Homo sapiens: one gene and its partners. The protein of the gene in region 1 interacts with the protein of each later gene in a biochemical or structural test. Each region holds a gene or a part of one and is shown in the gene's direction. Other genes may lie near its edges. The genes, in order: CCDC134, PALS2, PDZK1, IL16, DLG3, SNTA1 and APBA2.

The links.
Region 2: the proteins of CCDC134 (region 1) and PALS2 interact in a test that uses a peptide from one of them, tested with the Homo sapiens proteins (one large-scale study listed by IntAct).
Region 3: the proteins of CCDC134 (region 1) and PDZK1 interact in a test that uses a peptide from one of them, tested with the Homo sapiens proteins (one large-scale study listed by IntAct).
Region 4: the proteins of CCDC134 (region 1) and IL16 interact in a test that uses a peptide from one of them, tested with the Homo sapiens proteins (one large-scale study listed by IntAct).
Region 5: the proteins of CCDC134 (region 1) and DLG3 interact in a test that uses a peptide from one of them, tested with the Homo sapiens proteins (one large-scale study listed by IntAct).
Region 6: the proteins of CCDC134 (region 1) and SNTA1 interact in a test that uses a peptide from one of them, tested with the Homo sapiens proteins (one large-scale study listed by IntAct).
Region 7: the proteins of CCDC134 (region 1) and APBA2 interact in a test that uses a peptide from one of them, tested with the Homo sapiens proteins (one large-scale study listed by IntAct).

Annotation. Positions count from the first base shown.
Region 1 is NC_000022.11:41,813,934-41,818,358, forward strand, and holds part of CCDC134 (coiled-coil domain-containing protein 134 isoform 1 precursor), read left to right. Parts: intron 1-4,425. UniProt on the Homo sapiens protein: Molecular adapter required to prevent protein hyperglycosylation of HSP90B1: during translation, associates with nascent HSP90B1 and the STT3A catalytic component of the OST-A complex and tethers them to a specialized translocon that forms a microenvironment for HSP90B1 folding.
Region 2 is NC_000007.14:24,579,528-24,583,952, forward strand, and holds part of PALS2 (protein PALS2), read left to right. Parts: intron 1-4,425.
Region 3 is NC_000001.11:145,670,264-145,674,130, reverse strand, and holds the end of PDZK1 (Na(+)/H(+) exchange regulatory cofactor NHE-RF3), read left to right. Parts: intron 1-249; coding exon 250-474; intron 475-1,110; coding exon 1,111-1,401; intron 1,402-2,491; coding exon of another isoform or gene 2,492-2,524; exon of another isoform or gene 2,525-2,641; coding exon 2,642-2,695; 3' UTR 2,696-2,866; coding exon of another isoform or gene 2,867-2,887; 3' UTR 2,888-3,146; downstream 3,147-3,867. UniProt on the Homo sapiens protein: A scaffold protein that connects plasma membrane proteins and regulatory components, regulating their surface expression in epithelial cells apical domains.
Region 4 is NC_000015.10:81,290,483-81,294,907, forward strand, and holds part of IL16 (pro-interleukin-16), read left to right. Parts: coding exon 1-58; intron 59-2,073; coding exon 2,074-2,555; intron 2,556-4,425. UniProt on the Homo sapiens protein: Interleukin-16 stimulates a migratory response in CD4+ lymphocytes, monocytes, and eosinophils. Primes CD4+ T-cells for IL-2 and IL-15 responsiveness. Also induces T-lymphocyte expression of interleukin 2 receptor. Ligand for CD4.
Region 5 is NC_000023.11:70,500,075-70,504,499, forward strand, and holds part of DLG3 (disks large homolog 3), read left to right. Parts: intron 1-396; coding exon 397-506; intron 507-823; coding exon 824-915; intron 916-2,088; coding exon 2,089-2,195; 3' UTR 2,196-4,425. UniProt on the Homo sapiens protein: Required for learning most likely through its role in synaptic plasticity following NMDA receptor signaling.
Region 6 is NC_000020.11:33,436,723-33,441,147, reverse strand, and holds part of SNTA1 (alpha-1-syntrophin), read left to right. Parts: exon of another isoform or gene 1-30; intron 31-2,121; coding exon 2,122-2,307; intron 2,308-4,425. UniProt on the Homo sapiens protein: Adapter protein that binds to and probably organizes the subcellular localization of a variety of membrane proteins. May link various receptors to the actin cytoskeleton and the extracellular matrix via the dystrophin glycoprotein complex.
Region 7 is NC_000015.10:28,891,981-28,896,405, forward strand, and holds part of APBA2 (amyloid-beta A4 precursor protein-binding family A member 2), read left to right. Parts: intron 1-3,539; exon of another isoform or gene 3,540-3,629; intron 3,630-4,425. UniProt on the Homo sapiens protein: Putative function in synaptic vesicle exocytosis by binding to STXBP1, an essential component of the synaptic vesicle exocytotic machinery. May modulate processing of the amyloid-beta precursor protein (APP) and hence formation of APP-beta.

The DNA of each region.
Region 1 (4,425 bases):
CCTGGGCCTGGGTCCAGAAGATATCACTGACTCATTGGAGCCTGTGGGCAAGTCATTGCTCCCCTCTTAGCCTCAGGCTCCCTGTCTGTTCACAGCATGTGAACTCCAGTTATGGGGGGTAGTTAGGAGGCTATGAACAAACCCATCCCAGCACAAAATAGGCATCCCACTTCAGGTGGATATCAGGGTAGCTAGGGAGATCAGGCCATGCTCTTCCCTGCCTTTGAACCTCTGAGCACCAACTGGGCTTCCATCCCGCACTCCTGTACATGCTCTCATTCCAGGGGTTCCAGGGGGCTGAGGTGGGCTTTGAGAGCTGGAGACCAAGTTTGGGATAAAAGATGAGGACAGGCCGGGCACGGTGGCTCACATCTGTAATTCCAGCACTTTGGGAGGCCGAGGCGGGTGGATCACCTGAGGTCAGGAGTTCGAGACTAGCCTGGCCAATATGGTGAAACTCTGTCTTTACTAAAAATACAAAAAACTGGCCAGGCGTGGTGGTGCATGCCTGTAATCCTAGCTATTCAGGAGACTGAGGCAGGAGAATCGCTTGAACCCGGAAAGTGGAGGTTGCAGTGAGCTGAGATCGTGCCATTGCACTCCAGCCTGGGCAACATGAGTGAAACTCCGTATCAAAAAAAAAAAAGGGGGGACAGATACGATAGATGGAGGAAGGGATTGGAAGTGACAGGGCTAGGAGGGGCAGGAAGGAAGGGCTGTGGTGGCTGGAGGACTGGACTTGTCAAACCCTGGTGTCGGGAGGGGTGTTGGGTGTCTCAAGGGTCTAGGATTTAATTCTGCCTCCAGGCCAACAAGCTAGCCTGCTACTGTTTCATGGACACTGATAGGTCAGAGACATTGGACTGTATTACAGCAAAGGCACTAGCTAGACTGTTGGCCTGGTTGTGTTGGTTCATCTTGTTCCCTAACTCCCACGGAGGTGACACAGAGGGGCCAGGTGGGCGCTGTGCATGCAGGGGGTGTGCATCATAGCTGAGAACTGCCAAGCTGGAGAAATTCATGATTTTTATAGTGAACCGCAGCAAATGTGCTCTTTGGGAAGAGACATCACCACACCGTTCGAGGTTGCTCTCTGCAAACACAATCCTAAGACATGGCCCAGGTAAAGAGTGGTTAGGGCTTTGTATCTTTGGTGTGCCCTGCAAGAATATGCAGGGATGCTCAGGGCCATGATGGATTGCCACCCCAACAGTCTGCCCCAAGCCCAAGCCCTCCATGGCTTGGTTTAACTCAAATTTTCTTTTCTTTTCTTTTTTTTTTTTTTTTTTTGAGATGTAGTCTCGTTCTGTCGCCCAGGCTGGAGTACAGTGGCGCGATCTCGGCTCACTGCAAGTTCTGCCTCCTGGGTTCACGCCATTCTCCTGCCTCAGCCTCCCCAGTAGCTGGGACTACAGGCGCCCGCCACCACACCTGGCTAATTTTTTGTATTTTTAGTAGAGACGGGGTTTCACCATGTTAGCCAGGATGGTCTTGATCTCCTGACCGCGTGATCCACCCGCCTCGGCCTCCCAAAGTGCTTGGATTACAAGCGTGAGCCACCGCACCCGGCCTAACTCAAATTTTCACACGAATGTGCTATTCAGTCTGATTGATCTGACTGATAGAGGCTAGGACCAAATCTGTCAATTAGTCTCATACTTCATTTAATTAAGATTACTATCAACTATATTCTGAATAGCAGGGTAAGGCCAACCTACATTATTATTATTTTTTTTATAGACAGGGTCTTGCTCTGTCACCCAAGCTCTGTCACCCACCTAGCTTACTGTAACCTTGAACTCCTGGGCTCAAACAGACCTCCCACCTCAGCCTCCTGAGTAGCTGGGACGACAGGCCTGTGCGACACCATTCCTGGCTAATTAATTTATTATTTTTTTCAGAGACAGGTTCTTGCTGTGCTGCCTAGGGTGATCTCAAACTCCTGGGCTCAAGCCATCTTCCTGTCTCAGCCTCCCAAAGTGTTGGGATTATAGGTGTGAGTCACTGTGTCTGGCCCCTAACCTGCAATATTGAACAGGGTCCTGGACTCAACCAGCTGTGAAGGTCCTGGAGGACCAGTAAGTCTCATTTTGGATAATCAGGATATTGTCTAAGACCAATCTGTTATCCACGACCACCCACATAAGAGAGTTTAGATTGACCTGCCAATCTTTGATGTTACTGCCAATAAGTACAGGGGGCAATAGATGGACCCAAGCAACCCTCATGCCCCCATAAGGAGACATTCCATGACCCATTCTCTCCCACATGTTACGCTTGATTTGAGTCACCAGAACAATGTTTAGTTGAGCCTGAGGGCAGTGTCACTGTGGAGCTTCAGCCTCAGTTGCCTACATGGTATAATCCAAGGCTACTCAGACATCAGGAAAAGCAGATGAATTTGTATCTGTCAGGTTGAAACAAAATTGTGCTGGCTGGTGTGTCTGCACAAGGTCACTGTTGAGAACTACCTTTGATGGCATTAGACACAGCAGAATAGCTCAGTACTGACGTGTCCATGTGAGTTTTCCTATCATGTGGATGGAAATGAGACACCCAACAGTTGGCCATATTGACAGCTGCAGCTGCCACTGGGCTTGGGCAGACCCTAGGATTGTTTTGCCAGGTGGCAGTGATGGATCTAAGGGATAAAGAGAACATTAATTGTTCCCTGCACTTTCTGGGATCTAAGGTATATCCTCCCCAGGTGGCAGGATTATTGCTATAAAATCCATGTGTCCTTGGGAGACCGAGGTGGGCGGATCATGAGGTCAGGAAAATCAAGACTATCCTGGCCAACATGGTGAAACCCCGTCTCTACTAAAAATACAAAAATTATCCGGGTGTGGTGGCGCATGCCTGGAGTCCTGGCTACTCAGGAGGCTGAGGCAGGAGAATTGCTTGAACCCAGGAGGCGGAGACTGCAGTGAGCCAAGATCGCACCACTGCACTCCAGCCTGGCGACTGAGTGAGACTGTCTCACAAAAACAAAACAAAACAAAAAGCATATGTCCTATGCCAGCATCTATAGTTTCACTTTTTCTCCAGTTGTTGCCTACTATCACTTAGATCTTTCATTCAGAAATGTCAGGTATGAATGGGACCAGGGCATTTTTACAGATGTATAGAGACCTGTTATATCTCTTCTCTTTACCCACATGGGCCACTGCAGGGAAATCAGCAAGCAGGATACTCAGCCAAGTGGTCACAATCCTAACAATCTCAGGCTGTACCATTCCAACCAGAGACTCAGGTAGTTGAACCAGAAATATACAGTCCTCTGTTTTGTGCCACTCCTTGGTAGTGGGTATGTTACCATGCCAAGTAGAATGATATGTTTAGGTGGCAGTGGCAGTGATCTGGATGAAGTAGGCTTGATCAGCAGTTTGACTCCATTTGGTCTTTTCAGAGATTGAGCTTTATGATGGGCATCTAAACGAGTGAGCCAGGCTGTCTAGTTTGTCACCACAATTTGTTTCCATAGTCTGTGGCCCTAAAGAGGGGTGAGGGGTAGGTATCGCCAGGCATGGTGGCTCACACCTGTAATCCCAGCACTTAGGGACCGAGGCAGGCGGATTGCCTGAGGTCAGAAATTTGAGACCATCCTGGCCAACATGGTGAAACCCTGTCTCTACTAAAAATACAAAAATTAGCCGGGCGAGGTGACGCATGCCTGTAGTCCCAGCTACTCGGGAGGCTGAGGCAGGAGAATCGCTTGAACCCGGGAGGCAGAGGTTGCAGTGAGGTGAGATTGCACCACTGCACTCCAGCCTGGGCAACAGAGCAAGACTCTGTCTTAAATAAATAAATAAATAAATAAATAAATAAATAAATAAAAAGAGAGGGGTAGGTATCTTTGATCTGCCAGTTTGTAATCTCCAGATGACCAGGACACTGACAATAGTCAGTAAGAATATAACATGCATGGCTGTTAGGAAGGAGTGTCATCCAAGCAAGGGTGATACCTTTTAATTCAGGCCATTGTCTGACTGGCCTTTATGGCAGTTAATCAGCCAGCATTGTTACTGGGGCTGGCTGACTGTTGCTGCCCATGGACACCTGTGTCAGGTTCCCAGAACCACTCCCAGGCTTGATGGTTCAATAGGAGGATTCACAGGACTCAGCATATGGTCATATTCATGGCCACGATTTACTACAGAGAAAAGATACAAAGCAAAATCAGCAAAGGGAAAAGGTGCATCAGGCAAAGTCCAGGGGAAATAGGCTCAGCTTCCAGAGTCCCCTCCAAGTAGAGTCAAACAGGATGTGCTTCATTCCTCCCGCAATTAGTTGTAACAACGTGTTTAAAATGTTTTCTACCAGGAAACTTAATGAGGGACCTAGTGCCTGGGTTTTTACTGGGAGCTAGTCATGTGGGTACTTTTTGCCTAACATATCAAAATGGCAAACTCCCCGGAGCAAAGT
Region 2 (4,425 bases), on another chromosome or scaffold:
TTTGAGTGGTATTTAGTTACCCCTTTCCATCTTCTCCATTCCCCTTTCTTCTACCCCAGTACTGGTAAAGTTGTTTATAAATCACCGAGATTTTCCGATACTTTGTATCCTTCACACAGCCCAGCACTTTGTTACCTACTTAGTAGCACTAAGTAAAGATTTAATTGAAGGAGCTTAGCTTATCACCTTTTTATAGACCCAGTTCATAATTCTTATGTTTTTGGAAGAAATCTTTTATAAAAAGTGATTTTCAATTTCATTTGATAAATCTACTTAGAATATTTATTAGAATAGGCAATAGAGCAATTTTTTATAAATCTTGGTTTATTGTATAGCATATTAATGGAACTTTTTCATAGTTGCTTTGTTCTGTAGGATATTATTAGATATTAGTTGGGTAGGATTAATATTTTTAAAAGATAGAATAGGGCAGCTGGAGATATGTGGGACTTTTAAAGAAAAATGTATGAGAAAGTGTGGGGAAAATGATTCTCTGAGCAGACTGGGGGCCATATGCTTAGGAAAGGAAAAGTGAAAGGTGAGGGATTCGTTTAGAGAAATTCTGTGGTGGAACTCAGAGGGGTACATGTTGGGAGAAGTTTTAACTTAGGAAAATACTAAGCTGATTTACTTAAATGCATATTTCAAGGATAAATACTTTATATTTTGTTCTGTAGGTCATTTTTACCATGAAGTGACTCTGGCAGGGATTCTTTACCTAAGTGGGCATCAGAATCCTTTGGAGCTATCCTACGCTAAAGGATTCTAATTTAGTAGGTCTGGTATGGGGCAGGAGCATGTTTATATTGTTAAAATCCCCAGGAGCCACCATTTGAGTGTAAAATAATACATCCTGTGGAATATTCCATTTTAATAATGAAATCATTCAACAAAGCTTTTGAGGTTGTATATAATTTAGGTAACTCTAATGCTGGAACTTGGTCTCTCACCAGGTCAATACTTCTGCACATACCTCATTGATCCCCATTGCTTTACTCTCTTGCATACTCTTCCCTCCTCTGCCTTCTTGTTTCTTTTCTACTAATGAATATTCAGGCATGGTTCTCCAAGGAAGCCATCATTAGGTGGCCTCATCCATAATTTATCTTTTCAGTACAGAACAAATTATAACACAGTGCTTATACAACTGGCAAGTACACTCATCACATGAGTAGATGATTTATGTGTTTTCGTTCACATGAGCCTTGAACAAATATACCCAGTTTTACTAGTTGAGCTTCCTTGTTTTTTCTTCTTGCTATCAAGAGGTTGGCGTTTAGTCATAGTTAATGCTGATGTAAACATTTGATAATATTATAGATACCACCATGTTTCAAGGTCTATGTTAAATGCTCTCCACACATTATCTCATCTGCTTGTTGCAGATTTTAAAATTATGTTTTTTAAGTCACTAAAATCTTTTTATGATTGTATTAGTTTTCTGTGACTGCTGTGACAAATTGCCACAGACTTAGTGGCTTATAAATAAATGTATTCTCTTACGATTCTGAAGGCCAGACATTTGAAATCAGTATAATTGGGCCAAAATCAAGGTGTCAACAGGGACATTTTTCCTCCAAAGAATCTAAGGGAGAACTTACTTGTTGCCTTTTCCAGTTTCTGGTGGCTTCTGGCATTCCTTGGCTTGCGGCTACACACTGCAGTCTTCAAGGCTGGCATTTGAAATCTTTCAGCTCTGTGTCTTTCATTTCCCCACGTGTGTGTGTGTGTGTGTGTGTGTGTGTGTGTGTGTGTGTGTGTGTCAGAGAGAAAGGGAAATCTCCCTCTGTGAAGGACACTTGTGAAGGCATTTAGTGCTCTCTGGAATAACCTCCCCATCACAAGATCTTTAATCACACCTGTGAAACTTTCCAAATGCGGTGACATTCATAGGTGTCAGGAATTAAGACATAGATATCTTGTGGAGGGGGAGACTATTATTCAGCCTACCATAATGGTAATTTAAATAGTTCAGAAAAGGGAGGAGGAGTTGATAAGTCTTTTTGTCCCATCTTCATCACTTTCTAAGTCAGTATTTCTCAATCAGGGATGATTTTGCTGAACAATCTCCAGGAATATTTGGCTGTCACAACTGGGAAGGTGTTGCTACTACTATGTATAAGGTATAGGTCAGGGATGCTGCAAACAGTGCACAGGGCAGCCCCCCTCAACAAGGAGTCATCCAGCCCAAAATGTCAGTAGTGATGAAGCCGAGAAACGTTATTCTAAAGGCAACTATTGCCAATAGCTTTTTTGGGGTATCCAGAAAAAATTTTGATGCCTCTATTACGAGTAAAAGCCTTTAATCTGATTTGATCAGAACGGGTGGTAGTTTTGGCTGACTGAAAGTGATTTAAGTGAAGAGTCATAAACGATTGACACATATCTTAAATAATATATTACTTAAAAATCTACATTCATGTGTCAGTCTTTTCTTTAAGTATGTGTCTTTTGCCAGGAACTCTGGGTCATCATTCTTATATAAGCCAATGCATTATCACTGATTACCAGCTTTGGAGTGAGAACTTAAAAGTTTGTGAAGCAGTCTGCATATAAGATCTAGATTTCTAATGTTTTATGACTCCTCAATTGTTTATACTTGTTTTACCCTTAATTTTACAGCAGTTTATCATTTTGTTTTGTTGTTTTGTCACTTGCTTTTTTGGGGTCTTCCCAAAGCATCAACTGATTTTCATATAAAGAATATAACTCCCATCATCTTGTATCAAATACAGCATATGATGCATATAAAGAAAATGAAATCCTATTTTGTAATAATGGCTTGCTAAGGAATTGGGAATACTAATTCTAGTCGCAGCTCATTTGAACAGCATCCAATCTGGTGATATGGTGAGGGCTAATGTCAGTTGTTTACAAATTCTTGAATGTTTCAGAACATTTTGTTTTAGTTCTGTAATGGCAGAGTTTATAAATAATCTATAGAATATTACTATAAATACTTTATTGGTATTACCAGCTTAGTGCTTGCGTTACTTTTCTAAAAGAAACATTGATTTTTTTTTCATTAACTGTAATAAATATTATTTGAAGTTTGAATGTGGCTATCTTTGAGTGGATTTGTCTTCTTTTTATTTACTAGAATATGTATGTCTATATGCACATAATAAAATGTTATATGGAAAACCTAACTTTAGTTACATAAATAAAAAATTATTTGCTTTTTTTATTCCTCTTTTAATATCCTTCTATCTTCTATCCTTGTATAAGGAGCTAGAAGGTATAAGAAACTCCAATAATTGGGTTTCTTATAAAGAGCTTTGATATAAGAAACTCAGATAATTGAGTAAAGAAGTTTAATTTATTAAAGTTGCTTATTTTTGAAATGATAGTCATGCTTTTTTTTTTTTTTTTTTTTTTTTTTGAGACAGAGTCTTGCTCTGTCACCCAGGCTGCTAGAGTGCAGTGGCGTGATCTCGGCTCACTGCAACCTCTGCCTCCCGGATTCAAGTGATTCTCCTGCCTCAGCTTCCTGAGTGGCTGGGATTACAGATGTGTGCCACCACGCCCAGCTAATTTTTGTATTTTTAGTAGAGAGGGTTTCACCATGTTGGCCAGGATGGTCCTGAACTCCTGACCTCGTGATCTGCCTGCCTTGGCCTCCCAAAGTGCTGGGATTACAAGCGTGAGCCACCGTGCCTGGAAATCATTCATATTTTTATACAAATCAATTTAAATGTTTTTTATTTTTTAGCTAGTAATCTTTTGGAATGGAGGTCAGTAAAAAAAAATGTAAGCCCTATTTTTAAAAGGTTGGACTATCTTGTGAGACAAAGTAGTCTCAGTTTGCCATCACCAACCAATCCTTAGCATTAAGCTCTTGAAAACAACTAGGTAGAGAAATTTTCCGTGAAGGAATTTAATGATCTTTATAAAGTTTTACTATTCACCCAATTAAAATGTTAGATTATCATTTTATGCTATTCAATTTGGAAATACCAGATACTATACAATTAGTTTCCATTCACCATTACTTTCTTGAAAGAAACTTTTCACGACTTTCAATAAGGTCCCCTGCCCCCAAATAAAGTGGTTATAAATCCTAGGAGGCATTTTTGAGGATATCTTATTCAGATCCTTTCTTTTTTTTTTTTTCCCATGCTAAATATTTATTTAATTTTTTTTTTTATTATACTTTAAGTTTTAGGGTACATGTGCACATTGTGCAGGTTAGTTACATATGTATACATGTGCCATGCTGGTGTGCTGCACCCACTAACTTGTCATCTAGCATTAGGTATATCTCCCAATGCTATCCCTCCCCTCTCCCCCGACCCCACCACAGTCCCCAGAGTGTGATATTCCCCTTCCTGTGTCCATGTGATCTCATTGTTCAGTTCCCACCTATGAGTGAGAATATGCGGTGTTTGGTTTTTTGTTCTCACGATAGTTTACTGAGAATGATGA
Region 3 (3,867 bases), on another chromosome or scaffold:
TCCTATACTGCTTTTATGTTCATGTGTGCATTTGTGTACATGTATACACATATTACTCCATAACGAAGCACAGTCTTCTTTTATACCTTTCCTGGTTGGGGTAGTAGAGGAATTTTACAGCCTACAATCAGACACATCCAGAAGAAGAGTGGAATATGTATGATACCTTAAAAATCAGCACATTTAACAAAGTATAACTTACTCATGGTTACAACTAAGTTAATGTTTTTTCCCTTTATTTTTCAAAAGGCTCATTTTTCTCCATTTCTCTACTATCAAAGTCAAGAACTGCCCAATGGCTCTGTCAAGGAGGCTCCAGCTCCTACTCCCACTTCTCTGGAAGTCTCAAGTCCACCAGATACTACAGAGGAAGTAGATCATAAGCCTAAACTCTGCAGGCTGGCTAAAGGTGAAAATGGCTATGGCTTTCACTTAAATGCGATTCGGGGTCTGCCAGGCTCATTCATCAAAGAGGTATGGTAATCTGGTTCCAGCAGCCCAACAAACACAGCCACAATTAGGATAGTCTCAGCTTTTCCCACCCATTGATGGCTTAGTAGAGAGGTTCCATTGAAGGCACACACTGAGGGGTCTCACTTGGGTTCAGATAAATGTTGTCATGGTCCCACACCCTTTAGGTTAGCTACCAGTACATCATAAGCTCACGTTTGTTTGTTTCCCAAACATCTGTTCCAAACAGTGTGAGTTGACTGAACTCTAGTTGACAGTCACTATCAACCCTGATTGGCAGTCATATTTGTTTGCTTCTGTGCATTTGGCATAATGCCCCTTACCCTGTAGGGACTGATAAGAATCCCTAAAGCTTTCAAGTTGGGAGTGAAGAAGGGGGACCTATTTATCCCCCTTCATCCCAGAAGACATATGATGCTGAACCACTATTTATAATACCACTAATCATGTGAATATGGAAGTTATAGCCTTCATAAATATAAAAGCATTAGAACACCTTTCTCAACTTCTATACCTCAAGGAGAAATAATAACATGATTAAAAATAAATTCTTGAGCTCCTCATCTATTCTCTTAAGGAGAGCTAGTCTGATGTCCCCTTCTCTGTTTGAAATTGATAACTCAGAACTTCTGTTCACAGGTACAGAAGGGCGGTCCTGCTGACTTGGCTGGGCTAGAGGATGAGGATGTCATCATTGAAGTGAATGGGGTGAATGTGCTAGATGAACCCTATGAGAAGGTGGTGGATAGAATCCAGAGCAGTGGGAAGAATGTCACACTTCTAGTCTGTGGAAAGAAGGCCTATGATTATTTCCAAGCTAAGAAAATCCCTATTGTTTCCTCCCTGGCTGATCCACTTGACACCCCTCCAGATTCTAAAGAAGGAATAGTGGTGGAGTCAAACCATGACTCGCACATGGCAAAAGAACGGGTGAGTGGGGGCCTATTTCTTTTCGTGATCTAATTTACTAGAGTATGGGTACAGTCCCTATGAGTATATTTAATGTCTATGTTTGCCACAGATTTTTTTAAAACTAGAAAATGAAAATGTAAAGATAACTAACAAATCAAGTTATTGTAGAGGACAGGAGGCAGTATAAGAACAACAAATTTCTTACTTTCATAGCATGCAGCTGACAGCAACTGTCTAGAGCTAATAAATCAAGAAGTAAAAAGTTTATCAGTATTGTAATGGGAACCCCCAAAAGAGCCTGAATCGGATGATCTAGATATGAATTCTGGTTCTGTCATTTGTCAGCTGTGGGGAAATGGATTTATTTGTTCTGTTCCTCAGTTTTCCCACCCATAAAACAGGAATAATTTGTAGGATTGTTATCAGGATCATGTTAACTAAGATTAACTATATTAAAGTGCTTTGAATAGTGGCTGGCTCATAGTGAGCATGTAAGTGGTGACGGTTAAAGACAATATTGTTTAAAACAACTGACAGGTAATCCAGTTTTATTACTAGGAAAGATTAAGCATTCTCTATATTATTCTCTATATATTTGGATTAAATTTCTTGGTAAGTCTCAGTTTTATATTTTTGCCCAATTTTTCATAGATGAACTTGAGGTCGAAAAGTAAACTGACTTATCCAAGTTCATAAAGGAAATTTATAGCAAAGCCGAGACTCTAAAAAAGTTTAATTCAATGTTGTTCTTCTTTCCATTATATTAATTCTGCTAATGGGTGGAATATTCATTTTAATAAACTCAGTTTAATGAACACACACAATGCCCACTGATTTGTATTCAGGAATGCTTAATAAATACTATTAGTTGTATTAGTTGTCATTTAAAAATTCTGTAATTTCTCTTTAGGAAGTCAATATCCTAGTCTTATAAAAAAGAAATATACACAGACATTAAGGAATTTGTTAATGTGTCAAACAGCAAGTTGAAAACAATCAAGTGTAGAATTCAGGTCACCTGACTTCTAGTCATACCCAGATCATCTGATTCAGGCTCTTCTGGGGGTTCCCATTACAATACTGATAAACTTTTTACTTGATTTATCAGCTCTACACAATTGCTGTCAACTGCATGCTGTGAAAGAAAGAAATTCTAGTGAGTGACTCTACTCCCCGACTTAAGTCATGCAACTCTAGAATAGATCATCCCTCTTTCATTACTCTACCATTTGTAAATTCTTTGTTTTCTTATACACAGGCCCACAGTACAGCCTCACATTCTTCTTCCAATTCTGAAGATACAGAGATGTGATGAAAACAAGTAATAGCTTTGGCTGTTTATTTGATAGCTGTTTCTGGGTATTTAATAGGAATCCTTTCTCAAGGAATGAGTTGTGACCTGTTTACTGTCTCTTTAGAAGAAAAACTCCACTGGAAACCATTCACCATGTGTGATTGTCTTCTGTTATCATTTGTCTTACAGGCGGCTATTGCAGACGGCTAATTTATGCTTAACTTAGGAAGAGATAAGGCAAGAGCTAGATTTTTTTCATGTGATCTTTTCCAAGCTTCAACTTAACTTAACTACATTTCTCTGTATGATGATGTCTCTTACTTCTACAGGTTCCTTGAGCACCAAAGATGATTCATAACTCTGTATAGGTGACAGCTGCTTATAAAAGCATCTTAGCAGATAAGCCTATTAAAATTGTGCTTTTGTAACAATGTTGTGGTTGCTAGAATAAATACCATTAACAAATGCCTTTTGAGTATGCTTGATAGTGCTTTTGTTTTGGATTCACTTTTTATGCTTTAACCTTCATTTGCCTCTAGAAACCCAAAACACAATAAAGTACAGAATAAGACCTTAGTAATAAAATTCAGAATTTTCTTAAATTGCATGTCTGAGTGTTCTAAAAATTTTTCAACATTTCCCTTTCACAAGTGACTTATTCCCCCAGTTAAGTTATTCACGGTTTCACCCCACAGCGTGAGGGGCAGATAGAAAAAAAAAAAAGGAAACATCACTACCGAATTGAAAGTAGGGTATAATACTAAGTTCACAGGAAATCAAGAAAAAATGACATACCTGAAATCTCTCTTTTGGTAAAATCTATTTCAGGTGCATACCACCCCTTTCCCGGAAAAGAACAGATAACCTCTTTCTTGGTTATTTTAATGGGGCAGGATCAGATGAGGAGGTGTGGGATGCTAACTGATGTTAGATCACACAAGCATAATAAATACCAAGCTATGCTTGATAAAATGAACGTAAGGCAAAAGTGTTACAGTCTCTGATTTTAATGAGTCAATCTCAAGGCAAAGCTATAACCTTTTCCATGTGAACCTTAAAACGGAAATCCTACGTGTTTGGCTCAGCTACCATAGACATGTCTTGCCCCAGAGTTCCAGTGTATTTTTCACCTTTAGTTTCTTGGCTCCTCTCCGCCTCTACACCAGCCTCATATCCACACGGGATGCTCT
Region 4 (4,425 bases), on another chromosome or scaffold:
GCCCAGGCTGTGGAAAACACCAAGTTTGGAAAGGAGAGGCATCAGTGGAGTCTGGAAGGTAAGACAAATGGTGAACTTTGATGTAAAATATCTTTGCCTTCTTAGAAAGCTTAGGATTTATCCATTAACTCATCCTCTATCCAAGGAATAGTAACAGCATTTACCATAGACCAGCATAGTATGTAGACAAAGGCTGAAAACTAGCAGCCCACCAGCTAAATTTAGCTTATATTTTTGCTTTGTTTGGAAGACACAAGATTTTAAAAGCATCTGAATTTAAATTGCTACAAATGTGCCAGGCTCTCTCCAGCTCCCGGTGGTCTCCACCGTTCCCTTTATCCTGTACCAAGTTGCCATTCACACAATAGCCCCTGCAGGCACTTGAGTTTGCAGCCCCTAGTTTATAATAATAGAATATTAGAAAAACTAACATTTGGGAATATAATTCTGACATTTATTTAATTCTTATAATTCTTATAATAAATCAGAGACTATGCTAATTCATGCATTCACACATAATTTTTATGCAAATTTTATAAGAAAAAGTGAGGCCCTCAGAGACTCTCTTACTCAAAGTCATACCACTAGAGCACAGAGGCTCTGGAATGGAGATCCAGCTGGCTTGACTCCCATGCCTAGCCATTGGGCATTAATCACGTCTACCATGGAACATCCTTATGAAAGAACAACATGCAACCATTGGCACTGATATTGACAAGAAATTAAATGATCTGGGGAAATGTTCAGAGAAAAGAACAGAACACAATTTATTTCAGCTCTGGTTTATTATTTCTACCCACCCAACATGCATATATGCTCGGGAAAGCATGACAGAGAAACTCACCAAAATTTTGACAGTAGTTATTTCTGGCTGATAGGAACACAGGTGAAGTGAATTTTTACTTTCATTCCTTCCTCCTTGTGGCTGAGTTTTCTCTAAGGAGGATGCATTATTTCATGATCAGGAAAAAAAAAAAGAAAACTTTTTATTTAAAGAGAAAGTGAGTTAGGAGCTTGGCTGGCCTTGGTTCTCTCTCATGGGGCTCCTCTGGCTTTCTTGGTCTCTCAGAATGAGCTGGAATTTGAGCAAGAGACTAGATTTCAATCCTCTCCCACCCCTTCAAGCTGTGATTTTAGGAAAGGGGCACCCTTGACAGCTTACCACTAGAGAGAAGGGCCTCTCAAGGATGTGTGGGTAGCCCTAGTGCTGGAAACTAGGGTAGGGGGTACTGAGAACCAGGAAGGGCTAATGGGGAGGGAGGGAGGAAGGTGCAGTGGCTAAGAAATAGCGGCTTTCTGCCCTCACCTCACCCTCAACTGGAAAGAAATAGTGACTTCTTCGTGTAAGATTCAAAGTGCCTTGACAGGTAGTTTCTCTGTCTTTGTTATTGAGCCTCAAAATAACCCCAGTGACTTTAAAATTATCATCCTCATTTTACAGATGCAGAAATGGAGTTGGGTCCCCCAGGAAGCTGACTCTGAGATGGAGTTTGGTCTGCAGGCAGTGTCCTGGGGTTCACTACCTGTGGCAGGGAGGGGAGCAGGCAGGGTAGACAGAGGGAGGACGGAGCTGAGGTGCACACCCAACAGCTTCAGCCAAGCCCTGGAGCTCTGCAGCCAAAGTCCCCATTAGAGTTGTCCTATGTTGGCCAACATAGCTGGGCCTCTGTAACCCTATCTCCAGCAGTCCCTGGAGATGGGCTGCCCCATTGGACAAGGCAGCTGTCTGCAGCTGTGGCAGCCCCTGGAGGGACCCACAGCTGAAAGTAGTCTGCCAGCAGCACTCCCCACAGCTGGGACACCAAGCCCTTCCTCGATGGGTGATCTGGGTGGCATATCTCCATATACATCAGTCATAGGCTCAGAAAGCTTGAATGATTTTCCCAACCCAAAGTCATACAGCTCGCCAGGGACCAACACCAAGACTGCCATACTCCAGATCCACAGTGACTTCAGATAAGAAGCAGATGGCCGATGTGCAGTGTGCTGCCCGTGGCAGTCACAGGTGAGGCCAGGGGGTATTTCTGTTTTCTGAAGCTCAGCTGTGAAGATTCTCTTGTGCTTCCCACACAGGTGTCAAAAGGCTGGAAAGCAGTTGGCACGGGCGGCCCACCTTGGAGAAGGAACGAGAGAAGAACTCAGCACCCCCGCATCGCAGGGCTCAGAAGGTCATGATCCGCTCCAGCAGTGACAGCAGCTACATGTCTGGGTCCCCAGGGGGAAGTCCTGGGAGTGGCAGTGCTGAGAAGCCGTCCTCTGACGTGGACATCAGCACACACAGCCCCAGCTTGCCTCTGGCACGGGAGCCAGTGGTGCTTTCTATAGCATCCTCCAGGCTGCCCCAGGAGAGCCCACCCCTCCCAGAGAGCCGGGACAGCCACCCGCCGCTGAGACTGAAGAAATCCTTTGAGATTTTGGTGAGAAAGCCTATGTCCTCCAAGCCCAAGCCTCCACCCAGAAAATACTTTAAAAGTGACAGTGACCCTCAGAAGAGTCTGGAAGAGAGAGAGAACTCCTCATGCTCTTCTGGGCACACCCCACCCACCTGTGGCCAGGTAAGAGGATGGGTCCACAGGTTGAGTGTTTCCAGGACCAGACTCAAATCTTGAGCATGGGCAAATTAGCAAGTTAGTGTTAGCAGGGCCAGAATGAAAGTTTCTCCTGCTCCACCAGAGAGAAACTGTTGCCTAGGACTCAGCTGAGGACTGACCATGAAAAGATGGGTTTGAAGGTTGACAGATAATTGAAGTCCCAGTCCTGCTTGCTGGCATCTGGGTTCCCACCCATAACACACTGGAATTTAAGGTTCCTTTCTTGTGTCATTTTTCACTCACCATGAAGGAAAAATACCAGGGCCCCTGCAGGGTCTCAGTCTTTGCATGTGGATCTTTGAGTGTCCTGCTTGTAGGGAGAATAGTGGCTTAAATAACTAAAAAGGGGCCTGGCACGGTGGCTCATGCCTGTAATCCCAGCACTTTGGGAGGCTGAGCCGGGTGGATCATGAGCTCAGGAGTTCAAGACCAGCCTGGCCAAGATGGTGAAACCCTGTCTCTACTAACAATACAAAAATTAGCCGGGTATGGTGGCAGGTGCCTGTAATCCCAGCTACGCAGGAGGCTGAGGCAGGGAATTGCTTAAACCCGGGAGGAGTGGCTCCTTCCAAGGGCTATTGTGAGGATTAAAGGTAACCACTTAAGGCAAGTACCTGACAGCATCTCAGGCATATTAGCATTCATTGCCATGATCTTTCCCCATCAGGCCCCTTAAAGCCCTCCTTTCCACCCCTTGCATAAAAGGCAGACTGACTGACAGACAGCTGCTGTGTCTAGAACCATTTTATGCGCAGGCTAACCACACTGAGTACTTTCATGTACATTGTGTCAATTAAATCTTACAACCACCTGATGGTGAGAGTCCCAGTTGTGCAAAGAGGGAACTGAGAAACTCGCTCAAGTTCACATTGCTAGTGGGTCACAGTTACCCACTATGCAATGCTGAGTTTCCCATCCTTACCCAGAAGCTGTCTCCCCCATCACGGAATGGCCCTGCAGGGGCCCTGGCCCTTCCCTTAAGCACACCGTGGGCAGGTGGGAGGGGGCCTCTGGAAATCCCCTAAAACAATCTACAGTGAGGGTTGGCAAGCTTCAGGAGGGGTAGCGGTGGAGACGGGATGTTGAGTAGGAGGGGTGAAAGTGAAGGAGGGAGGAGGAAGCCAGGTTACTAAAAAGGAAGTGCAGTTTTGCAGAGCGCTGGCAGGATGTGGCTGGTTAGCAACACATGATGGAGTTATCAGATGGATCTGTTCTCCCACCCCCTCTTTTAAGCCCATATTTCATTTTCCCTTGGGCCTGAGACCTATGAGTCCAGAAGGGCAAATCAGGAGCAGCCAGCTGAGAAGCCAGTCATTTTGCCTTCCTCCTGGAGGCCCAGAAAAGGAGTGCAGTTGCCACAGCAGGTCTGTCCCAGTGATGCCCTTGGCAGAGCCACATAGGGTCAGGGAATATTCCCGAGTAAGGCGTCTGGAGAAGGAACTGGGGTGTCCTCAGGGAAGCCCAGGCAAGGAACTTCCCACAGGTCATCTTTCATGCCCTGTGTGCCTCAGCAGAATACAGGGCTCCCTCCTGTACCTGCCCCCAACAGCACCGTCTCCTGGAGACAAGGCCGTTCTGCAGCTGCCCTCCTCTGTTTGCTCTGGTCTGTCCCACGTGGCCAGCAGATCCTTCTCCCACAAACATTTCCATAAAAGCAATCAGCACGACATAATTTTATTGGGCACTGGAGAGGCGGGGGTCACAGAGAAAGGATCATAGCACGCAATAGAAAACAGGAAGCAATTTGCTTGAGGTCACTCTCAAAATTTCCTTGACCATTCCTGGGGATTTCTCACTGGATGTTTTCTTCCGTGGCCACAGTGTCCACTGTCTC
Region 5 (4,425 bases), on another chromosome or scaffold:
AGGGGAGGCCAATGCTTATGCCAAGGTTCCACTTGGATCCTTATCCTTCCAACACAGGAGCTGCCCAACAGTGCTGCTGACCAAAGCCATAGCACATCTGCATACTCCCAGCGCCTTGACGAAGCTATCTGTCTCCTTCATACAACTCACCCCAGAGCATTACCCAACAGGGAATAGGGGGCCCTGGACAGATGTGGCCTTTTCTGGGTAATAGGAGCAAAAAGTAGGGCCTGTCTACTTCAGAGATCGAATTTCTTAGGCCACTTTGGGTGGCCCTCGTGCCCCTCCCCTCACCCCCACCCCCGGCCAAGGTGGATGTTTAGAATGTCACTGGATTTCTGCTTGGGACTTGGTGAATAGGGAGTGGCTGGGCTGTTACAATCTCTGCTTTTTCAGGGCAAGCACTGCATCTTAGATGTTTCCGGCAATGCTATCAAGAGACTGCAGCAAGCACAACTTTACCCCATTGCCATTTTCATCAAGCCCAAGTCCATTGAAGCCCTTATGTAAGTGTTGAACTGAGAACTCAGACACACCAAGCTAAGATCGGGTCTGGAAGGGAAATGGAGAAGAAAGTGATTTGCTGGGCAGAAACTTGAAAGAAACTCTGTGCCCCAGCTCTGGTCACTGGGCGCTCCTGTTTTGAGGGCTTGTGCATATGTTCATGGTTGGACTTTTGAACGCAGGTTTGAGGAGTTAGCTACGGGCCACTGCTGCTCTGAGAGGGCAGCTTAGCAGATTTTTAGGGATCCTGGAATAATCCTTTATGGTTAATCAGAACATAAGATCTGGTTCAGAACTATTTTTCTTCTGTCTTTGGCAGGGAAATGAACCGAAGGCAGACATATGAACAAGCAAATAAGATCTATGACAAAGCCATGAAACTGGAGCAGGAATTTGGAGAGTACTTTACAGGTAAGACTCCTGCTGCCCTGCGGGGGGTTCTGGGGAACTAGCCAGGTACCTGTTTCTATAAGTGTCTCAAAGAGGTGTAGACAGAATGTAGAAACCTTGCACGGAGTTTCCAGTTGCTTTTAAGTTTTTGAGCACAAACCTTTCCAAAGCACACAAGTTCCCCGTGTCCAGCCATAGCAGTTCAGCCAGTTTATAGCATAAACCACTCACCAAATGCTTCCTTGAATTGTTGGTTTGTTCATTTTGTCTTGTCCTTACTAGATTGTAGGCTCCCTGTATTACTCTGTCTCCCTCCGTTTCAGCTCCACTCCCCCTCCCCCAGTACTTTGCTTTGCATGTTTAGGTGCTGAATAAACGTTTGTTGATGATGATGATTCCTCGGTGTGCTGTTCAAGTTGTCTGTTGGGGTGTCTGTCTGTCTGTCTGTGTGTGTGTGTGTGTGTGTGTGTGTGTAAGGTCAGTTCCTGAAACATTGGGAAGGTTTCTATGTAATACGTTCTTCACCTTTTGAAGTACAGTGACATATATATACATAAATATATGCAAGGCAGTGCCGAATCCATTCTAGCTGGTGGTGACACTAGGTTAACTGTGTAAAGAATTCATAAATGTCCTCACACACCTTGGGTCTTCAGAGCTCCCTTTACCATCAGCATCCATGTCCTTGTTTGCTGGGCTGACCTCTGACATACAGCAGATGTGATGGGCCCAGGAGCGCTGCCTCTTGCCAGAAATTGTGGCTTTCAGTTCTTTCTGTGGAGAACTGCGATTTTCCAAATCTTTTAGTAAGGCTGCTTTAGAATAACAAGCTGCTGGCCTTATGGCACCCAAGAACAACATGAACTGCAAGGTCTGGCACATAGTGGGTGCTCAATAAACATCTTTTGAATAAACACATTTTTCTGGTCATTACTACTTAGTCTCACTGTCTCAGTGAGTTGACTTCAAGCCCTGGACTTGGGGTACCTTGTTGGTTGCCCTTACTGCCCTGAACACACAGGCAGCCAGCCAGTGAACCCAAGCCCAAACCCATACTCCTGGGAACATGTCCTTCATGTGAGGGGTGAGGGGGTGGAGGGGGGACTTGTAGGATTGTTGGGAGAGGCAGGATTGCTGGGTTTGGGGGATGTGCTATGGACCACAGTAATAATTTTGTTTTCCTCTTCACTTTAGCCATTGTACAGGGTGACTCACTGGAAGAGATTTATAACAAAATCAAACAAATCATTGAGGACCAGTCTGGGCACTACATTTGGGTCCCATCCCCTGAAAAACTCTGAAGAATCCCCTCCAACCATTCTCTTGTGAACAGAAGAAATCAAGTCCCTCTTCCCTCCTCCCTCTTCATTCCTGTCCCCATGGGGAGAACAAATGCTACTGTTCTTGTCCCCTTTTTTAGATATGTCAAAAAAAATTAAGTTTTCTAGTCCTGTTCTTTTTTTTTTTTTAAGTTTTTGTTTGTTTCAGTTTATTTTTTGGGATGATGCCATCTCATTCATCATGTGACTGTGCCCATTCCTGCATGGACCTTTCCCAAGCGCTAGCACAGGTGCAAAATCCATCAGAGCCATTGTTTTCATAAAAACCAAGCAGAAGTGAAGAGAAAAGAGGAGGACTGATGGAAAGACAGACTCTGGACAGCTGCACGGCTTGTGAAGTGAGCTAAATGCACCACATGATGAGATGCTCCTGGGCATTTCTCCCTATCTGTACTGCTGTCTTGCAGCTCTGAACGGTGCAACGTAATGGCGACAGAAAGTATCTTATTTATATATAGATATATATATGTAATTTATATAAAATATATAGAAATTATTATATATATATATTATACACTCTCATATAATATATATATATTCACACACATTTGGGTTAGAAAATCTATGGAGACTTCATCAATGGTACTATGTTATTAGAGAAATGCTTTAATTTTCATATTCCAATCAGATGGCATCTTCTATCCCAGCTGGTTGGGAAGGGATTGAAGATGGTAGCAAGTGCTGCACTAAGGGCACTCGCATTTGGTCATTCTCTTGAGAGCTAGGAGGGGTCAGCCTGAGGCCGGAGAGGAAGGGCTTTTGCCTGGGGTGAGAGGGTGAGAGACTTGACCTGAAAGCAGCTGCTGCCCCTGAGGTGCAGCCAGAGTCCTGTGTGCGGACAGAGAGAATGGCTAATGATGCTCCGCGTGGAATTGCCTATTGTTTTATGCCACCTGATGTGTCTGCATGAGAGGTTTCCTTTTTGTTCCTTTTTAAGCTGCTGTTAAACCAAAACCATGTTGTGCTACTGTGTCAGCCTTTTCATTATTGCAAATTTTACTTTTACTATTTAAGTGAATGCATAGAATCCAATTTGCCAAGGTTCTAAAGGCTTATGAGGTCCTGAAGGAGCCAGGCCTTGTGATGGAGTAGGTGACACAGGCCTGGTTGTCCTGTCAGCAGAAGGGAAAGCAGGGGCTGGGCTGAGAGGAGGACACGGAGGGCTCTGCTGAGGTTCCTTCCTGGGTTCCACCAACAGGGACAGGGAGTCACTTGCCTTCCAGTTCTGTGCTGGGATGGCGGGACAGCACTTGGCTTGCTTGGCCAGCTGCGTCATGAGTTTGATTTGGTTTTTTTTTTTTTGCAGCTGCTTCATATGCTCTGCTCCAGCCCCTCCCCAACAGCTGGTAGCTTATGGTTTCTTCAAGAGGAAAGTAGACTTTATGCTGTACATTTGAGCTGTAGAGCTAAGATTCGCTTACTGGTGAGCTGTGAAACCTTGTTGCTTTTTCCCAGAGTCTGATGGCAGTGACTGTGATCAAGGGAATCTTCACCGCCACAAGTGCAGGCAGCAGGTGTGGTTCAGGTCCCCCCCCACCCCACTGTGCTCCTTTGAAGCCAACGTGCCTCCCTCGCCTCCATACTGGAGGGACGACGCAGGGGAGAACAGAGAAGTGCTTGGCCCTAGGATTGAGGCACTTGTTTCCTAGCCCGCTGGGTTAGGGCTGGTGCAAGCGAGGCAATGTTGAGGATGCTTTAAGCACTACCAGCCGAATCCGGGAACTCTGTTAACAGTTGTCCAACCAGCAGAATGAGGCTAACTGTATAAAGCATGGGACCCAGGATGAGGATAAGGAAAGGACAGCGGCTTTCCCTGGGCAGTACAATGGCTTGAAGGCAAAAAGGGATAAAGTGACAGCCGACTGTGACTCTGGTGAGGAGGGGTGAGCAGGGAGGTTGATTCTCTGATGTTAACTAAGTGGCAAAGTCTCAACCGTGCTCAGCCCTCCCCCTCCCAGGGAAGAGAAACAAAGATTCAAAGTAAGCATGATACTAGTGGGTTTACCAGTGTTTCTTCCAAGGAGACATATATTTTTTAATAAACGATAGTTGCAATGAACTGTGGCTCAGAGACCTTCTTAAAGTAGTTGAGAAGGGAGGGCGTGGGCAAAGCAGTGGGAAGAACATCCCAAACTTTTGGGGGCCAGAGGGCTCTCTCCTTAGTGATGATCAGCTAGCCGAGCTGGGCCGT
Region 6 (4,425 bases), on another chromosome or scaffold:
GAAAGCATTTAGCACAGTGCTTGGCATTTGGTAAGTGCAACTAAGGTGAACTCTTATTACTATTTCTTATTTTAAAAGGGCATTTAAGAGTTTGGTAATAAAGATGTTTAGTAAAATGTATTAGCTTCTTTTGTATCCAAGATGCCATTCAGGCAGGTTTTTAGAATCTCTAGACTCTAAGGCTTTGGTTTCCAGCCTGGACTTTGGATTGTAAAACATTATGATTGCTAAAGCAGTCTTTTGAGGCCATAGGAATAGCCGACTTGTCTCTTGATTCCGGTTTGAGGGGTATCAGTGGGTTCCCACATTGTTGCCTTTTTGTGTGTGTGTGTGAGACAGTCTTGCTCTGTTGCCCAGGGTGGAGTGCAGTGGTGCGATCTCGGCTCACTGCAATCTCCACCTCCTGGGTTCAAGCAGTTCTCGTGCCTCAGCCTCCTGAGTAGCTGGAATTATAGGCACACACCGCCATGCCTGGCTAATTTTTGTATTTTTGTTTTATTTTGAGATGGAGTCTTGTTCTGTCGCCCATGCTGGAGTGCAGTGGTGTGATCTTGGCTCACTGCAACCTCCACCTCCTGGGTTCAAGCAATTCTGCTGCCTCAGCCTCCTGAGTAGCTGGGACTACAGGCATGTGCCACCAGGCCCAGCTAATTTTTTGTGTTTGTATTTATTTATTTATTTATTTATTTTTTGAGATGGAGTTTCGCTCTTATTGCCCAGGCTGGAGTGCAATGGTGCAATCTTGGCTCATTGCAACCTCAGCCTCCCGGTTCAAGCAATTCTCCTGACTCAGCCTCCCGAGTAACTGGGATTACAGGCATGCGCCCCCATGCCCGGCTAATGTTTGTACTTTTAGAAGAGATGGGGTTTTGCCATGTTGGCCAGGCTGGTCTTGAACCCCTAACCTCAGGTGATCTGCCCATCTTGGCCTCCCAAAGTGCTGGGATTACAGGCGTGAGCCACCACGCCCAGCCATATTTTTTTATTTGTTTATTTTTTTATTATGTATTTATTTACTTTTTTGAGCAGAGTTTCACTTTTGTTGCCCAGGCTAGAGAGCAATGGCGTGATCTCAGCTCACTGCAACCTCCGCCTCCTGGGTCCAAGTGATTCTCCTGCCTCAGCCTCCCGAGTAGCTGGGATTACAGGCATCCGCTACCACGCCCAGTTAATTTTTTGTATTTTTGGTAGGGACAGGGTTTCACTATGTTGGCCAGGCTGGTCTCGAACTCCTGACCTTAGGTGATCCACCTGGCAGCCTTGGCCTCCCAAAGTGCTGGGATTACAGGCATAAGCCACCGCACCTGGCCCTTTTTTGTGTTTTTAGTAGAGGCAGGATTTCGCTATGTTGGCCAGGCTGGTCTCAAACTACTGGTCTCAAGTGATCCGACCACCTTGGCCTCCCAAAGTGTTGGGATTACAGGTGTGAGCCACTTTGTCCGGTTATTTTCATTTTTAATTTTTGTGCGTACATAGTAGGCATATATATTTATGGGTTACATGAGAAAATCGAAAACATTTAAGAAAAAGTGATTGAAGCACTTTGTAAGTTGCACAAACACTGGTGAACACCCAAAGCACTTAATCAAAAGATCCAGGGATCAAACTATAGCATTATGAATTTTGAAAATGATTTATTTAATTAATTAATTTATTGAGACAGGGTCTCCTTCTGCCACCCAAGCTGGAGTGCAGTGGCACAATCTCAGCTCACTGCAGCCTCGACCTCCTGGGCTCAAGTGATCCTCCTACTTCAGCTTCCCTAGTAGCTGAGACCACAGGTGCCTGGCTAATTTTTGTATTTTTAGTAGAGGCGGGGTTTTCCCATGTTGCCCAGGCTGATCCTGAACTCCTGACCTCAGGTGACCTGCCCACCTCAGCCTTCTAAGGTGCTGGGATTACAGGCATGAGCCACCGGACCTAATCAAAAATGATTTATTATTAGTGTTACTAGTGTCCCAAACTTCCAAGATTTTTCTCAGATTCCCTTTATTCTCCCATTGCCTTTTCCAGCACTGGGCTAGGCACCAAGGGAAGCCTTCAGAAATAATTGTGTCTTGATGTGACTCCCAAGTGTTGGAGTATCTGCCTAAGTCTTGTCCTCCTTCTGTACCTGTGCAGGCGGCCGGGAGAACAAGATGCCTATTCTCATTTCCAAGATCTTCAAGGGATTGGCAGCTGACCAGACAGAGGCCCTTTTTGTGGGGGATGCCATCCTGTCTGTGAATGGGGAAGACTTGTCCTCTGCTACCCATGATGAGGCGGTGCAGGTCCTCAAGAAGACAGGCAAGGAGGTGGTGCTGGAGGGTAAGCACTGACGTTCCAGGGTTCAGAGGGGCTGGGTGGAGGTGTTCCACTGCTTCTCTACCTCCCCCAGGCCTCAGAAGGCCCCATCCCAGCACTGGGGGCTGGGAGGTGGGCAGGACTGAAAACAGAAACAGAATTTGGGGACCTGCCTGAAGACAGTGTGGGGTGGTGGAGGGAGAGTTGGCATAGAGCCAAGCAGACCTGATTTGCATTTTCTGTCTTCCAGTCACTAGCTGTGTAGCCCTGGACAAGTCACTTCATTTCCCTGATCCTTAGTTTCCTCATTTGTAAAACAGGGATGTAGCTCCTGCCTTTCTGGGTTGTTGCGACTAGGGCAAAAATGTACATGGCAGAGTGTGCCAGCACCTGAGTGACACAGGGAGAGAGGGGTGCGGACTGGGGAAGGGGCAGGTCAGATTCTTTCCTGTGGGGCCTGGAGAGCTCTTGACTTCAGGTTCTTTTAGTGCCTGGGCCTTAAAACCCCAAGACCCATCCTCCTTTGGGAGAAGCCTTGGCTTTTATTTTACTTTATTTTTTTTTTGAGATGGAATCTTGCTCTGTTGTCCAGGCTGGAATACAGTGGCATGATCTTGGTTCATCGCAACCTCTGCCTCCTGGGTTCAAGTGATCCTCCTGCCTCAGCCTCCCAAGTAGCTGGGATTACAGGTGTGCGTCACCATGCCCAGCTAATTTTTATATTTTTGTAGAGACAGGGTTTTGCCATGTTGGCCAGGCTAGTCTTGAACTCCTGGCCTTAGGTGATCCACCCACCTCAGTCTCCCAAAGTGCTGAGATTACAGGCATGAGCCACCACGCCCAGAGGCCTTGGCTTTTATAGAGTAGGACATCAAATCCTTCCAGCCAGGATCAGAGAGGAGTTTTGTGGAGGAACCTTGGTTGAATGGCTTTCTCCACTGTTCCCTCACAGTGTGGTCTTGGGTGGGACCCTTGCCCTCTGTGGGCCTCGGTTTCCCCATCAGTTGTTACACGCCTCCTGCTGAGGTTGTCCCATGACCATCTTGTGCCATGTCTCTCAAGAGGTTTCTGCTTTGCTCAGCCCTTTCCTCAAACTCTGTCAGCTCTGGAAGCCCCGTGGGGGCCTGAGGAATGTGTCTCTGGCTTATGGCCCAGAACAGGCACAGGGAGGTGGCGGGGGCTGATGGAGAATAACACGGCCAGAGAAGCTGCTGAGTTGAGTCCCAGGCCCAAATCCTGGTGGGTTGCCTTGGTTTCCCTAAAGGAGTGTCCAAGAGGCCACAGAAGCAAATAGGTTCTCGGTCCTTGGTTGACCCAGATATAAAATAAAATAAAATTTAAATAAAGAAAATAAAATGTAAAGTTTTATTTTATATTTTAGGTATATCTATTTAAATGCCATGGATGCATTTTTTTTTCTTGTTTTTTTTTTTTTTCGAGACAGGGTCTTGCTCTATCACCCAGGCTGGAGTACAGTAGTATGATCTTGGCTCAATGCACCCTCCACCCCCCGGGGCTCAAACAATCCTCCCACCTCAACCTCCTGAGTGGCTGGGACTACAGATGCATGCCACCACACCTGGTTAATTTTTTTTTTTTTCTGAGATGGAGTCTCACTCTGTTGCCCAGGCTGGAGTGCAGTGGCATGATCTCGGCTCACTGCAACCTCCGTCTCCCGGGTTCAAGCAATTCTTCTGCCTCCGCCTCCTGAGTAGCTGGGATTACAGGCACCCACCACCATGCCCGGCTAATTTTTTTATTTTTAGTAGAGATGAGGTTTCACCATATTGGCCAGGCTGGTCTCAAACTCCTGAGCTTGTGATCCACCTGCCTCAGCCTCCAAAAGTGCTGGGATTACAGGTGTGAGCCCCTGCGCCTAGCTTTTTTTTTTTTTTTTTTTTGAGATGGAGTCTTACTCTGTCGCCCAGGCTGGAGCAGTGGCGCGATCTTGGCTCACTGCATCCTCCGCCTTCCAGGTTCAAGCGATTCTTCTGCCTTAGCCTTCCGAGTAGCTGGGACTACAGGTGCGCACTACCACGCCTGGCTAATTTTTTTTTTGTATTTTTAGTAGAGACAGGGTTTCACCATATTGGCCAGGCTGGTCTCGAACTCCTGACCTCGTGATCTGCCTGCCTCGGCCTC
Region 7 (4,425 bases), on another chromosome or scaffold:
CTAGTGTACAGATGGACTCACCCAGAGAAATTTCCAGTCTTGCAAGCTCCATTCATGGTTAGTGTCCTAGATGGGGTACTGTGTTATATATAATATATATATATGTTTTTTTGAGACGGAGTCTCGCCCTGTCACCCAGGCTGGAGTGCAGTGGCTCAATCTCAGCTCACGGCAAGCTCTGCCTCACGGGTTCATGCCATTCTCCTGCCTCAGCCTACCGAGTAGCTGGGACTACAGGCACCTGCCACCACGCCTGGTTAATTTTTTTGGATTTTTAGTAGAGACGGGGTTTCACTGTGTTAGCCAAGATGGTCTCGACCTCCTGACCTCATGATCCGCCCACCTCGGCCTCCCAAGGTGCTGGGATTACAGGCGTGAGCCACCACGCCTGGCCCATGTTTTATCTTTTATACCATATTTTTACTGTGCCTTTTCTATGTTTAGATAGATACTTGTGTTACAGTTGCCCACAGTATTCAGCGTGGTAACATGCTGCCCAGGTGTGTAGCCTGGGAGCAATGGCCTGTAACCTATAGCCAAGGTGTGGAGTAGGTTTGTATAAAGTATGCTCTATGATGTTTGCACAATGATGAAATTGCCTAATGACAAATTTCTCAGAACACATCCCTGCCATTAAGCGATGCATAACTGTGTGTATATGTGTGTGTGTGTGTGTGTATGTGTACGTATATATGTGTGTATGTATGTGTATATATATATAAAATTTTTTTTATTTGGTTGGTTTTACATTCCTGGAATTGACTCTCCAGCAGGGCAGCTGTAAATATGAATTCCTCCGAACTGTTGTATGCATTGTTAATTTAGTAAAGTACAGTTTATGGTTTCCCACCGTTGGTTTAATTGTCAACTGTCTTGGAAAAATCCATTGTTGCAAAAACAGGAAAACCACTAATTGAGTGAATGCGTGCATTTAGGGATGATGGATTTCTCAGGTCTCTCTGGAAGCAAGTGTGTGCCTTGTGCAAATAAAACATAGTTTCTGTTTCTCAGTCTTTTGCTGTAATAAGTGAGCCATGTGCTCTAGCATCTGTCTGGATTATCCGGAGCTGGTGGCAGCTGTCACGGGTGTGGTGCAGTGGGGCCAGGCATGTGTTAGGAACTGGAAGCTCTGGGAAGCCAGGCTTTGCCTCCACGTGTGAGCCAGCTGTAGAGCGTCACTGCTCAGAGTTTGTCTTGACTCATCCTGAGAAGGGCACGTGGAGATCTGTGTCCCATTCCTCACCAGCCACTGAGTTACTATGGATGGAGGAGATGAGATGTGTGCAACTGTTCTGCTACAGTAAAGCACTCAGTCAGTGCAGTCACCAGGTTTAGGGTGTGTGTGTGTTTTACCAACTTGCCTGCTGGGTTTCAGACACCTGGCACTACCTCCAGCCTCTTACTGATTCTGGCTAGTACTTGTGAAAGCCGTCAGCTGGGTGATGAATGGACCGATTTTGGCCGCAGGTCCCTGCACTTCCCATCTGGCCTGACTGCTAGATTCTGAGCCCCTGAGGCAGGACTGAGTGGGTCACATTAATGGCTGATTGTCTCGGGAATGGCATTGGGTGAAGTCGAGGTTTTCCTGACCCACAGCTCCTAGTAGAAGTGCCTTTCTTTTGTGCATGTATTGTGAAGATTCTGCCTGTGAACTTTCTCTACCCTTTGAGTCCTAAGGTTCAGGTACTTGGAGAGGAGCGTGTCATCGTTTTGCAGGTTGGATGTGCGGTTGTTGGGGAAGACATCTTTGTGCTGTGTTGGGTTGGAAGCTTTGAGAGCAGAAGCCCCTCCAGACCAAGAACTCCTGATTATGTCTCTCCCTTGGGCTTTCGCAGTTTTCAGCTTCTAAATTAATTGCATTTTATTAAGTAATGGTTTTCTTCTTGATCACAGGCGTGCCTGTGCTTAATCAGCACTGACGACTGGTGCTGCTTCAGTTGATTTGATACACCTAGAGGCAGCCTCATCTCCAACTTGCCTTGACTTCGTCTGGGGAGCTGCCGTGGGGGACCCCTGGACTGGCAGCATTCCCACCCCTCACTTTGGCAACCCTGGTCTAACTCCGTACGTGTTACTCCTTTTATCTGTCACATAGGGTGGCTTAATCTAATAGTGGAAACAAAGGGGTGCGGGACACTAACATGGTAGGTCTCACCTTGCCTGTCATTCACCTCTCAGTCCTTTGACACTCAAGGACTCTGCAGTGGTAGAACCGGGGGCAGGTACCCTTCACTTTTCTTACCCCCGAGTCCCTTTGCCTGGAGCTCTGTCCATCCATCCACCCATCTACTCAGTAGGTATTTTCTGAGCAGCTACTGTATTCCAGCTTTCTTGTTCCCAGTTTAGAGCTGGGTGGGATCAGGAGGGAGGGCATGGAGGGGGCTGCTGGAGAATGTGCAGTGGCATCAGAGCCCCATTCTGGCTCTGGGTCCAAGGCCCTCCTAGAGAGGCACAGTCTGGCAGATGTGAGAGCCCCATGGTAGGTTGGGGTGGATCATGGACCCCATCCTATAAGAGTGGGTGGGTTTACCCCTTCAGAGCCCAGGCCAGAAGAGCCCTCCAGGCAAAGGGCCAGCCTGGAATGGGGCACCCTGGGCACAGGGGGGACTATGTGGTTTGTGTAGGTTAGAGCTGGAGATGGGGGTTGGAGGGCAGTTGCTGACGATTAGGAGCTTGGTGGCCCTAGAGAGTCCTTGCTGTGGGTTGGGAGCGAAGCAGATGGGCCAATAACAACGCATAGTTTACCAAGCGAACTCTAGGAGAGTGATTTCTGCAGCTGGCTTCCCTAGCAGACAGGTCAGAGCGTGGGAGAAGGACGCCGTTAGGGGCATGTTCAGGGGTGCATCTAGAGGCGAGGGGAGGGTGCGGGGAGGTGCTGGTGGAAGATGCACTGCATGGGGTGGGGAGGGGCTCAGTAAGAACACAGGAGGGTGGCGGGGGCAGGTGTCTGGCCAAGGCAGCTCCTGCGTCATTGGGGGGCTCCAGAGCCCGCTCCCTATGTTCTGTAGGAGGCGGCTGCTGCTGCCAAGTCCCAGCCTTGCTAGTGAGGACGTTTAATTTTACCCTTTAGAGATTTACAGGATTTCTAGATTAACTTGCCCCTGTTTTTCTAAAAGAACGACAAAATCCATGACAAACCGTTCATCACATTATTAACTGGCTCACCCAGCCTTAACCTGTGCAGCTCCGCCAACTTACCCTCGGCACACAGGGAGGCCTGGGTCCCCAGGCAGCTCCAGTGTGCAGGGGTGTGGGTGACAGCGCAGGTGTGGCCTCCCTGCTGCTGGCCTCCGGTGGCTGGCCTCAGCCTGGCTGGGCACGCAGGCTGTCCTTACGGGGCTCCCAGTAGCTTTCTGGTCCTGCGTCAGGAGAGGGGACTGCACAGGGCTTGGGAAAGAGAGCGGGAGCAGCAGTGCCGCAGGATGATGGGCTCCAGAGGCCTCTGCAGCAGGGGTACTCTGGGGAGACATTCGGGTGCCTCCTGTCCATGGCCTCGATGTGCCAGGGCGCCTGCAGCTTGGACCCTCTTCCCCTTTCAGGCGGAGGGAGCTGTTCATCCTCTGGGGGCTGCTGGGCCAGAAATATCTCTTACCTGATAATGTCAGGCATCAGAGGTTCCTGTTTCGTGGGTAAGTTGCTGTATGTTTTGGGGCTGCAGTCAGTCTGTTTTTCTCACTGGCATGGCATGGGGGTGGGGGGCAGTATTCCCTCCCATGAGGCCCATGTCCACCTCATTATCTCTGTCTGCTGGGACTGCGCTGGATGCTGGCTGAGGCTGCCTTTGTTACTTTCATGCGCCATAACTGGAAAGGCCTGCTGCTTGTTAGGCTCCTTAGAATTCTGATTTGAAGGCTGGGCATGGTGGTTCATGAGGTAATCCCAGCACTTTGGGAAGCCGAGGAGGGAGGCTCGCTTAAGCCCAGGAGTTTGAGACCAGCCTGGGTAACGTAAGGAGACCCCATCTCTACAAAAAAATAGAAAAGTTAGTCGGATGTGGTGGCTCACGTGTGTGGTCCTAGCTACTCGGGAGGCTGAGGTGGGAGGATCCCTTAAGCCCAGGAAGTTGAGGCTGCAGTGAGCTGTGACTGCGTCACTCTACTCCAACCTGGGTGACAGTGAGAACCTGTCTCAAAAAAAATATCTGATTTGAAGGAGAGGGAGCTCTATTTGATGCGGGGGTTGGGGGTGGAGAGCACCTCTGTGAGTAGACCTTTCTGTCATCTTGATGGTTTTAATCAGATATCTAATATTATATTAGTAGTTCACGTCAACTGATGTCCCAAACCCACTTTCTTCTCTTCTCTTCTCTTCTCTTTTGAGACAGAGTCTCATTCTGTCGCCCAGACTGGAGTGCAGTGGCACGATCTCAGCTCACTGCAAGCTCCGCCTCCCGGGTTCACGCCATTCTCCTGCCTCAGCCTCCCC